2 linked regions of the Homo sapiens genome follow. The protein of the gene in region 2 purifies or fractionates together with the protein of the main gene of each other region. This does not show direct contact. Each region holds a gene or a part of one and is shown on either strand. Other genes may lie near its edges.

The links.
Region 1: the proteins of H1-7 (region 2) and MRPL13 purify together in Homo sapiens (co-immunoprecipitation; 2 studies listed by BioGRID and IntAct, with this or other methods). This does not show direct contact.

What each region holds. Positions count from the first base shown.
Region 1 is NC_000008.11:120,394,897-120,400,399, forward strand, and holds the end of MRPL13 (large ribosomal subunit protein uL13m), read right to left. Parts: intron 1,230-5,503; coding exon 1,208-1,229; 3' UTR 541-1,207; downstream 1-540.
Region 2 is NC_000012.12:48,324,404-48,331,021, forward strand, and holds H1-7 (testis-specific H1 histone), read left to right. Parts: upstream 1-4,576; 5' UTR 4,577-4,888; coding exon 4,889-5,656; 3' UTR 5,657-5,876; downstream 5,877-6,618. UniProt on the Homo sapiens protein: Essential for normal spermatogenesis and male fertility. Required for proper cell restructuring and DNA condensation during the elongation phase of spermiogenesis.

The sequences.
Region 1 (5,503 bases), on a different chromosome or scaffold from region 2:
TTTTACCTTAGCCAAATTACTTAATTTATTGCTGCTTCACTGTGTCCCCTTTAAATTGGGAGGATAACAGTACCTCCATTACAGTATGTATTAATTAAATAATTCATATAAAGTGGTTGTGCCTGGCACATAGTAGGTGCTTATGTCATATTTAATGCAGTTATTAAATAAACATGTTTACATCATAATTCACACAGTTGTATTAGCACATTTGACAACCAGTTTTACTTGTTTACAGATCTATCTATACTTCCTTCCCATCCTACAATAGACTCTTTGATGGGGCACGGAAGTGTTGGGGGCAACTTGTATGATTTCTGTTTTCCCAGGACCTAGCACTGTGCCTGGTATATAGCAGTACTGAATATATGTTTGCTGAATGAATGGGAAAGTTGGTCTGAAATTCATTCCTTGATTGGCTATGGCAAGAGATGAAAAAATACCACCATGAAAATGCTCAAATGCAGTGGCTCAGTATCTTAATTTCTAGAGAGCATATTTTACAAGCAATAGTCATCCCAGCACCCCAATCTAAGTGCCAGTACAGAGATGAATGGAAGCCAACAGGACAGATATGGGAAAACAGTGTGGAGAGTCTACAAACAGAATCACTGGCAGGGAAGAGGGATTTCTAACGAGCAGACAGGCATTATGTATTCTGGTGTCATTGTGGGGCCAAGAGGCTATATGGGACACAGAAAAAGATAGCAGTTTATAAATATTTCAGGGCAAACTTTACCCTACTAAGCTGCAAATATGAATTTAGATGGATGACAAGTTAGATAAAAAAAGCCACTGAAATGAAAAGTGAAGGTAGAGCTTGTTCACAAGGGACAAGAATAGTGACCTGCAAACTTGAGAAAATCTGCATGGAGAGGCATTTTTGGAATGTGTAACTGCAATTCTATACACAGGGTCTGTTTTTTATCATTAAATGCAACACTAAATAGTCAACCAAGTAAGTGATTTTATTATTATCAACTATAACATTCAAATCAGATTACATAAAAATGGTTCTATAAAATTATATTTTAATTACAATTTCCTATTGAAGGACTATACCTTCCTGACCTTTCCCCACAGTGATTCGGCACATAAAACAGGTGCTGAACTGTAGCAGTTGTTTTACTCCATCCTGTAGGTTAGAGAAACTCATCAGAAGAAAGTTTCAATCACTTCACTGTTATTTTCTGCAATTCTTATTCTCTTATAGCCGATAATCTTCAGGTCTGAAAGAAAAAATCAACATATTTCTTCATGAATCATTATTTTGTTTTCTCCTGACTGATGAGGATTATTTTTCCAATTTAAAATAAAAATAACTGTTCACCAAGAAATAGCTACAAACACTATATCTAAATTTTTGGTGAAAAAAAAACATTAACATCAAATCTTTATAAAGTAGAACAGTTAAGTGACAACTCCAAAGTCTTTTTGAAAGTATAAATATAAGCCACCTTGTGCCTATATAAGAATGTATTTAGTAACTTAATAATTTGAATTCAATTTCTCTGTTCCATTTTTAAACTTTTATAAAGTCCTTATTGAAAAGATTACTATAATCTTTAAGAGTTTAAAAATCATACGAAGACATGGATTTATAGTACAAATGCAAATTTTGAGTAAGTGATTTTTCCTATTTATATTATCATATGCTAAATTTAATTTTCATTATGATCCATATACAAAATAAGTGTATAAACATCAGTCCTTTAATATTTATTTACAAACATAACTGGTTTTCCTTATTTATGCAATTATAAGATTAACCACACCTGAGAGCTGCTTTCATTAGTCAATTAAAAAAATTTTTCAGAAGTATTAAATTATAACAATAGACAAAATTAAACATAGGAAATTATAAAATGCAAACAATTTGTCCTGTTATCTTTTCAAAAGTGTATTTGTAGGTGTTGGGTTTCCATATGGAATTTTCTGAAGGAAGTTGGTAACAAACTAAACAGATATTTTGGCAAAGATGACTGATTAGAAGCAGCTGTGGTCTGCAGTTCTCCCAGAGGAATGAAAATGGCAAGTGAATTCAGCACCTTCAACTGAAATATCCAGGTTTTCACATTGGGACTGACTAGGCGGACAACTCGACCCATGGAGAAAGAACTAAGGAAATCAGGATGGAGTGACTGCCCACCTGGGAGTGGCATGGAGCCAAAGAAACCCCCACTCCCAGCCACGGGAAGCAGTGAGTGATTGTGTGACCCCCACCTGGGAAACCACGTTTCTCTCACGGATCTTTGCAGCCTGTGGATCAGGAGATACCCTCGTGAGCCCACACCACCAGGGCCTTGGGTCCAATACACAGAGCTGTGCAGAGTCTTGGCAGAGCAGTTGCTCAGGCTCACACAGAGACCCAGGAGTTTAATAGACTCTAGCCCCAGGAATCCCGGTAAGGCAGGAGATCCATCCATAAATTCTCCAAGGAAGGGAGCTGAATCCAGGGAGCCAAGCGGTGTTGTTCTGCGGGCCCCACTTCCATGGCATCTCACAAGTTAAGCCTCACTGGATTGGAAATCCAGCCAACCAGTGCAACAGGCTGGAGACTGCCTGAGATGGACAAGTTCCTGGGGGGAGGGGCAGCTGCCATTTCTGTGGTTAGGTCGACTCAGCCATTCTAGTCTGCCAGCTCCAAGGAGTCCACTGGACAAGGAGGAGTCGCCCACAATGCAACACAGCTGCTGTGCCAGATCACAGCCACACTGCTTCTTTAAGTGGGACCCTAATCCATCCCTCCTCACTGGGTGGTGCCTCCCTGCAGGAATTTCAACAACTCTAGCCAGGGTTATATGAACAGGACTCTGATCTCTCCCTGGGATAGAGCCCTGGGGAGAGACGGCCCCTGTTTCTGCAGTTCATTTGACACAGCCATTCCAGCCTGCCAGCTCCAGGGAGTCCAGGCAGTCTAGACAAGGAGGAGTCTACCATAATGCAGCATAGCTGCTGTGCCAGATTGTGGCCAGACTTTTTCTTTAAGTGGGACCCCGATCCATCCCTCCTCACCAGTTGGTGCCAGTGAGCACCAGCAACTCCAGGAATTTCAGGAACTCCAGCCAGGGTTATACAGACAGATCTCTGATCCCTCCCAGGGATGGAGCCCCTGGCGGGAGGGGTGGCCAACATCTAAGCAGTTCAGTCGACACAGCCTTTCCAGACTGTTGGCTCTGGACAGTTGAAGCAGTCCGGATGGGGATGGGATCCCCACAGTGCAGCACACCTACTCTACCAAAAAGCAGCCAGACTGCTTTAAGCAGGTCCCTGATCCTGTCTCTCCTGACTGGGTGAGACCTCCCAACAGGGGTCTCTAGACAACTCCTACAGGAGTGTCTGGGCTGGCAACAGGTCAGTACCCCTCTAGGACAGAGCTCCCAAAGGAAGGAACAGGCTACCATCATTGCTGTTTTGCAGCCTTAACTGGTGATACCTCCAGGTAAGGTAAAAACTGAAACAACTAGGGTCTGGAGCAATCCCCCAGCAAACTGCAACAGTCCTACGGAAAAGTGGTCTGACTGTTAAAAGAAAAACAACAAACAAACAAAGTAACAACAACAACATCAACAAAAAAGACCCCACAAAACCCCACTGAAAGGTAAGCCACCTCAAAAATCTAAGACAGATAAGCCCACAAAGATGAGAAAGAATCAATGCAAAAACCTGGAAAACTCTAAAAGCCAGAGTGCTGCTTCTCCTCCAAATGACAGCAACACCTCTCCAGCAAGGGCACAGAACTGGGCTGAAGTTGAGATGGCTGAACTGACAGAAGTAGGCTTCAGAAGGTGAGTAATAATGAACTTCACTGAGCTAAAGGAGCATGCTGTAACCCAATGCAAATAAGTTAAGAATCATGATAAAACAATACAGGAGCCAACAGCCAGAATAGCCAGTTTAGAGAGGAGCATTACTGACCTGATGGAGCTGAAAAATACAACATGAGAAATACATAATGCAATCACAAGTATTAATAGCAGAATAGACCAAGTATCTTTCTCAAATAAGACAGGCAGACAATAATACACACACACACACAAACACACACACACACACACAGAATGAAAAGGAATGAACAAAACCTCCAAGAAATATGGGACTATGTAAAAACCTATGACTAATTGGGGTACCTGAAAAAGACAAGGAAAACAGAACCAAGTTGGAAAACATACTTCAAGATTATCATCCAGGAGAACTTCCCCAACCTAGCAAGACAGGCCAAAACTCAAATTCAGGAAATCCGGAGAACCCCAGTAAGGTACTCCATGAGAAAAGCAACTTCAAGACACATAATCTTCAGATTCTCCAAGGTCAAAATAAAAGAAAAAATGTTAAGGACAGCCAGAGAGAAAGGCCAGGTCACCTACGAAGAGAAACCAGTCAGACTAACAGTGGACCTCTCAGTAGAAACCCTACCAGCCAGAAGAGATTGGGGGCCAATTTTCAACATTCTTAAAGAAAAGAAATTCCAACCCAGAATTTCATGTCTGGCCAAACCAAGCTTCATAAGTGAAGAAGAAATAAGATCTTTTTCAGACAAACAAATACTGAGGGAATTCGTCACCACCAGGCCTGCCTTGCAAGAGCTCCTGAAGAAAGCATTAAATATGGAAAGGAACAACCATTACCAGCCACTACAAAAACACACTAAAGTACACAGACCAGTGATGCTATGAAGCAACCACATAAACAAGTCTGCAAAATAACCAGCTAGCATCATGACAGGATCAAATTCATACATAACAATATTAACCTTAAATGTAAATAGGCTAAATGACCCAATTAAAAGACACAGAATGGCAAACCGGATAAAGAGTTGAGACCCATCAGTATGCTGTCTTCAAGGGACCCATCTCATGAACAAAGACACACATAGGCTCGAAATAAAGGGATGGAGGAAAATTTACCAAGCAAATGGAAAACAGAAAAAAGCAGGGGCTACAATCCTAATTTCTTACAAAACAGACTTTAAACCAACCAAAATTAAAAAAGACAGAAGGGCATTGCATAATGGTAAAGGGTTCAATTCAAGAGTTAACTATCCTAAATATATATGCACCTAATTCAGGAGTACGCAGATTCATAAAGCAAGTTCTTAGAGACCTATAAAGAGACTTAGACTCCCACATGATAATTGTGGGAGACTTTAATGCCCCACTGACAATATTTGACAGATCATTGGGACAGAAAATTAACAAAGATATTCAGGACCTGAACTCAGCTCTGGATCAAACAGAACTGATAGATATCTACAGAACTCTGCACCCCAAAACAACAGAACATACATTCTTCTCATTGCCACATGGCATTTACTCTAAAACTGATCACAGTAAGGTAAAACACTTCTCAGCAAATGCAAAGAACTGAAATCATAACAGTCTCTCAGATCACAGTGCAATCAAATTAGAACTCAAGGCTAAGAAATTCACTCAAAACCACACAACTATATGGAAACCGAACAATCTGCTCCTGAATGACTCCTGGGTCAATAATGAAATTAAGG
Region 2 (6,618 bases):
TGCTGAGAGATCAGATGTTAGTCTGATGGGCTTCCCTTTGTGGGTAACCCGACCTTTCTCTCTGGCTGCCCTTAACATTTTTTCCTTCATTTCAACTTTGGTGAATCTGACAATTATGTGTCTTGGAGTTGCTCTTCTCGAGGAGTATCTTTATGGCGTTCTCTGTATTTCCTGAATCTGAATGTTGGCCTGCCTTGCTAGATTGGGGAAGTTCTCCTGGATAATATCCTGCAGAGTGTTTTCCAACTTGGTTCCATTCCCCCATCACTTTCAGGTACACCAATCAGAAGTAGATTTGGTCTTTTCACATAGTCCCATATTTCTTGGAGGCTTTGTTCGTTTCTTTTTATTCTTTTTTCTCTAAACTTCCCTTCTCGCTTCATTTCATTCATTTCATCTTCCATCGCTGATACCCTTTCTTCCAATTGATCGCATCGGCTCCTGAGTCTTCTGCATTCTTCCCGTAGTTCTCCAGCCTTGGCCCTCAGCTCCATCAGCTCCTTTAGGCACTTCTCTCTATTGGGTATTCTAGTTATACATTCATCTAAATTTTTTTCAAAGCTTTTAACTTCTTTGCCTTTGGTTTGAATTTCCTCCTGTAGCTCATAGTTCGATCGTCTGCAGCCTTCTCTCAACTCGTCAAAGTCATTCTCCGTCCAGCTTTGTTCCATTGCTGGTGAGGAACTGCGTTCCTTTGGAGGAGGAGAGGTTCTCTGCTTTTTAGAGTTTCCAGTTTTTCTGCTCTGTTTTTTCCCCATCTTTGTGGTTTTATCTACTTTTGGTCTTTGATGATGGTGATGTACAGATGCGTTTTTGGTGTGGATATCCTTTCTGTTTGTTAGTTTTCCTTCTAACGGACAGGACCCTCAGCTGCAGGTCTGTTGGAGTTTGCTAAAGGTCCACTCCAGACCCTGTTTGCCTGGGTATCAGCAGCGGCGTCTGCAGAACAGTGGTTTTTCGTGAACGGTGAATGCTGCTGTCTGATTGTTCCTCTGGAAGTTTTGTCTCAGAGGAGTACCCGGCCGTGTGAGGTGTCAGTTTGCCCCTACTTGGGGGTGCCTCCCAGTTAGGCTGCTCAGGGGTCAGGGGTCAGGGAAGCACTTGAGGAGGCTGTCTGCCCGTTCTCAGATCTCCAGCTGCGTGCTGGGAGAACCACTGCTCTCTTCAAAGCTGTCAGACAGGGACATTTAAGTCTGCAGAGGTTACTGCTGTCTTTTTGTTTGTCTGTGCCCTGCCCCCAGAGGTGGAGCCTACAGAGGCAGACAGGCAGGCCTCCTTGAGCTGTGGTGGGCTCCACCCAGTTCGAGCTTCCCGGCTGCATTGTTTACCTATGCAAGCCTGGGCAATGGGGGGTGCCCCTCCCCCAGCCTTGCTGCCGCCTTGCAGTTTGATCTCAGACTGCTGTGCTAGCAATCGGCGAGACTCCGTGGACGTAGGACCCTCTGAGCCAGGTGTAGGATATAATCTCCTGGTGTGCCGGTTTTTAACCCTGTCAGAAAAGCACAGTATTCGGGTGGGAGTGACCTGATTTTCTAGGTGCCGTCTGTCTCCCCTTTCTTTGACTAGGAAAGGGAACTCCCTGACCCCTTGCGCTTCCGGAGTGAGGCAATGCCTCGCCCTGCTTCGGCTTGCCCACGGTGCGCTGCACCCACTGACCTGTGCCCACTGTCTGGCACTCCCTAGTGAGATGAACCCGGTACCTCAGGTGGAAATGCAGAAATCACCCATCTTCTGCGTCGCTCACGCTGGGAGCTTAGACTGGAGCTGTTCCTCGATTTTTTTTCATTTATTCGTTTTCCTTTGATTTCGCCTCTCCCAAAGGTTTCAACTTGGCCTCCCTTCTGATCACAGGGGCATCAGTAAACATGGTTGGTTGATTTTGTTCTTGTCTTTCATGATTACACCATTATGTACAGTCAGTCTATTTTTCTCTGGATCAGCTGACTTCAAGGGTCTGACTTCACTCATTTTCTTCCTTATTCTCAAAGCAAGCAGTTATGCCTCTTTTTTATCTGGTGTTTGCCCCATCCTGTGGCCACTGGTCTCTGCAACCAGGAAGGGTAGCTAGACCAAGAGACTATACAAATGGGAGAAATCCTGCTTAATGTGGTCCTGCCTTTCCATCTGGCAGTCCTTCCTGGGTGCACTGTCCCTGTGCTGATGCAGTAGTCCCCTGCCCATGTAAATCCTCAGGGTCACATTACTGTGCCCTGATTTTAAAGATGGGAAAAGGTACAGTGAGTGCCTTTAGATACTCTTGAATCTGAGCAGCTCTGAACTGTGATTATGGAGATAAACTAGCCCCTGCTTTATGGTGGAGATATATAATAGGGAAAGGGTCAACCTTAGAGAAAAGGAAACCTAACACAGTACTTAAGAACTTAGGCCTTAGGATTAAGTAGACTTAGGTTTGGTTCCAAACTCTACCACTTGCTACCGTGTCACCACTTACAGCTCTGTCATTATCACTAGTTGTCCTTCCCAATGTCCCTTAACTACCTTTTCAGTCGTATCTCCTGCTACTCCCCTTCTCATTGTCTACCCTCTCCCTGCCCCTCAACACACACCTGTGTTTTAACCAGATAGAACTACCTGGAAGCTTCTTAGAAGGTAAAACCTCTAGCCCTATCTTCAGACCTATGAATTGCACTTTATGAGTATCCCAGGGTATTAAATATGCACATTGAAGTTTAAGAAGCACTGGTCTGGCTGGGCGCAGTGGCTCATGCCTATAATCCCAGCAGTTTGTGAGGCTGAGGTGGGTGGATTGCTTGAGGCCAGGAGTTCGAGACCAGCCTGGCCAACATGGCAAAACCTCGTCTCTACCAATATATAAATAAATAAGGGCCAGGCGCAGTGGCTCACGCCTGTAATCCCAGCACTTTGGGAGGCCAAGGTGGGTGGATCACCTGAGGTCAGGAGTCTGAGACCAGCTTGGCCAACCAGCCTGGTGAAACCCCATCTCCACTAAAAATACTAAGATTAGCTGGGCATGGTAGCAGGAACCTGTAATCCTAGCTACTTGGGAGGCTGAGGCACGAGAATCACTTGAACCCAGGAGGCGGAGGTTGCAGTGAGCCGAGATTGCACCACTGCACTCCAGCCTGGGCAACAGAGTGAGACTTTGTCTCAAAAAAAAAAAAAAAAAATTAGCTGGATGTGGTGGCACATGCTTGTAATCCCAGCTTCTTGGGAGGGTGAGACACAGGAATTGCTTGAACCCAGGAGGTGGAGGTTACAGTGAGCCAAGATTGTGCCATTACATAGCCTGGGCTGAGCAAGACTCTGTCTCAAAAAAAAAAAAAAAAAGCACTGGTCTAAGCTACTTCCTGGAGCTTTGATTTTTAAAAGAAACTGTCACTGTCTAGCCTGTGACTGATGAATGTATGTGATTGCCCTCTGGAAAAGTATGATATGCTTGGCAATTTGAAGTATTCTTAGAATAATACTTTAAATTATTCCCAACTAAACTGTGTCCAAAATAGGTCCTTGATAAGCTAATCCTTACTTGGCCCCCTTCATTTCCAACCCTTTGAAATTCACTCTGCTCCTTTCTCCTGATCTTCTGGAAGTTTCTTTCTGAATCTAGAGAAACTCTCCTCACCAGAGAGGAATGATGTAAGCAGGCTCAATTAAATGCCCGCTGTGTATAATGAAGCATATTGTTAGGTGCAGCATGGGACATAGAAGTTCAAAGACTATAGCTCTTGAGGATATCTTTATTTAGTTGGAAATACAAGACAGAAACATTCAAAGTAAAGTAAATTTATTCCTTATATTTAGGTAGCCCTTGTTCATCTACCTCTTCTGAAATTTTGCAATAATTCTGTGATGTTGGTAGGAAGGGAATGTGATGTTAGATAAGAAGTCAGATGGCCGGCACATCCATCTGACAGCCACACCACTGATATTAAGGGATTTGTTAATGTCATATGGCTCCTAAAGAGCTAGGATATGCATCCATATCTTCCAGCTCCAAGTACGAGTTTTTTTCTTTTTAAAAAATATTGTGTCACATTATACCCTCTAATGCCAAATTCATTTAAAATAAAGAAAAAGCCATATAAGATTGCAGAAGTAATTTTGGTGGTTGTGGTAGTTAAGAGGCAAGAAATCATTTGAAAGAGTTTGGGGAGTCTTCAGTGAAGAAGGATAATGTAGCAGTACCTTGAAAGATGAGCAGGACTTATCTGGGCAGACAAAGAGGATGAGAAATCCAAGAGAGGGGATGAGATGGAAAAAAACACAGTATGTTCAAAGAATAATGATTAGACCAGTATCCTCAGGCGATGTGAAATCTAGATTGTTTCAGTACAGTTGAATGCGTCATCTAAATTTCCCAGGTGTGGGAATCAGTGTTTAGGGTAGAGGGATCACACAATTGGTTCCTTTTTTACTTCATGCTCTTGCACAGAATCCACTGTGTAGAATTAGGGAGACATGACTTCAGATACCTGACTGGTGGAATTAAAGGTGGGAGTTTCTAATCTGGGTTGTGTTTCATGGACTACCCCGTGTACTTTCTACAGGCAGTGTGTTGCTTGTTTTGGATAGTTGGGAGCAGCTTCGCTCACCTTAAGGAACTGTGGGTAGATGGTTTGCAGGACCACATACACACACAAAATAGCCGACTAAAGAAAGCGGTGGAGATCGAGATCAGTAAGTTTGATTTGGGAACAAAACCCTGGAGACTCTATAGGTAGGTGACTGTTGGGGGTGGACAGGCGCTGAAGACTTGGATTGGTTTAGACCTAGAAGGAAGTGGCATTTGATTGGTTATTATAAGTGAAAAGGGCCCCTCCCCGGGTGAGATATGCCAGCCCCATAATTAGGACCTGAAAATCTCTGCCAGGCCTGCCTTTGTGACGTGGCCCAGTCTACCTCAGCTATGGAACAGGCCTTGACTGGTGAGGCCCAAAGCCGGTGGCCCCGCAGAGGCGGGAGTGGGGCCATGGCTGAGGCGCCTGGGCCCAGTGGCGAATCCCGAGGACACTCAGCCACTCAGCTGCCAGCGGAAAAAACTGTCGGGGGACCATCGAGGGGCTGCTCAAGCTCCGTGCTCAGAGTGTCCCAGTTGGTGCTCCAGGCCATCTCCACTCACAAAGGGCTGACTCTGGCAGCTCTCAAGAAGGAGCTCCGAAACGCCGGCTACGAAGTGCGCAGGAAGAGCGGCCGCCACGAAGCGCCCAGGGGGCAGGCCAAGGCCACGCTCCTCCGGGTCAGCGGCAGCGACGCCGCCGGCTACTTCAGGGTCTGGAAGGTTCCCAAGCCCAGGAGAAAGCCGGGACGCGCGAGGCAAGAGGAGGGCACGCGCGCTCCCTGGAGGACCCCAGCCGCGCCCCGGAGCTCCCGGAGGCGCCGCCAGCCCCTTCGCAAGGCGGCCAGGAAGGCCAGAGAAGTGTGGAGACGGAACGCGAGGGCGAAAGCCAAGGCCAATGCCAGGGCGAGGAGGACCAGGAGGGCAAGGCCGAGAGCCAAGGAGCCGCCGTGTGCCAGAGCCAAGGAGGAAGCGGGAGCGACAGCGGCAGACGAGGGGCGAGGACAGGCCGTGAAGGAAGACACCACGCCGAGGTCAGGGAAGGACAAGAGGCGAAGCTCCAAGCCCAGGGAAGAGAAGCAGGAGCCCAAGAAGCCCGCACAGCGGACCATCCAGTAGCCAACGCGGGCTAAAACCGACCGGACATCTAGCGGGCAGGGGAAGACTCCACTAAAGACTTCCACAAAGACCTCCCCTAAATCTGAAGGTCTTCCTGATCCAGTTGGGAATGCATCTTGTGGGAGCAGCTTCACTCCCACCACGGACCAATGCCTTTCCCCCATAGGCCCCAAGAAGAGCGGCTGTCACACTCATTGAAATGAAATGGACCTCTAGACCACCTTGTGTCTGTTTCCTCTTTGCCGCACCTGGAAGGGAAGGGGTGGGTGGTGGTAACGTTCAGTGAAGACAGTAAATTAGCTGAGATTCTGTTCCTGCTGCAGAACTCAGAGAAATGTCTTTTAGAAGGAGAGAAAACAGAGGAAAACCAGCAGCTTAACAAGTGTTGAAGTATTGTTAGATACTCTAGCAAATCCAAATTGAGTTCTGGGGAGGAAGGCATGTTGGGAAAAGAGTAGACAGTCTTTAAGTTGAGTGGTCCCACTGATTCAAAGTGTTCTTACCTGAAATTCCTTTTAGGACAAAGTCCTCCCAAAATTGATTATAATGAGTTTGTAGTTTTTGCCTTGAATTGATAACCTATTTTAATTTAAAAGATATTCTTATGTCAATCCTCAGTTAAATAAGTGTATGAAAGCATCCAGCATAGGGCCTGGCATAGGATAGGTACTCATCACTGAGAGTTAAATATGTGTATAATTAATTCCCGATGGAGTGGTAATGTGCTATAGCAGAAAACTGCTGGACCACTATGTAGTAAGACCAAGATTCTAGTCAAAGTTCTGCTAGTCTGACCTTTGCTGAGTTATTTCTTAACCATTCATGGTCTTGGTTTTCTTCTCAGTAAAATGTTGGGATTGAGCTAAGATGATTTCTAGGTGATTTAAATGTCAGTAAAATGAAAAGGGGACTTAAACATCATGGCATAATGGTTTTCTTGACAAAATTCAGCAATAAGGAAA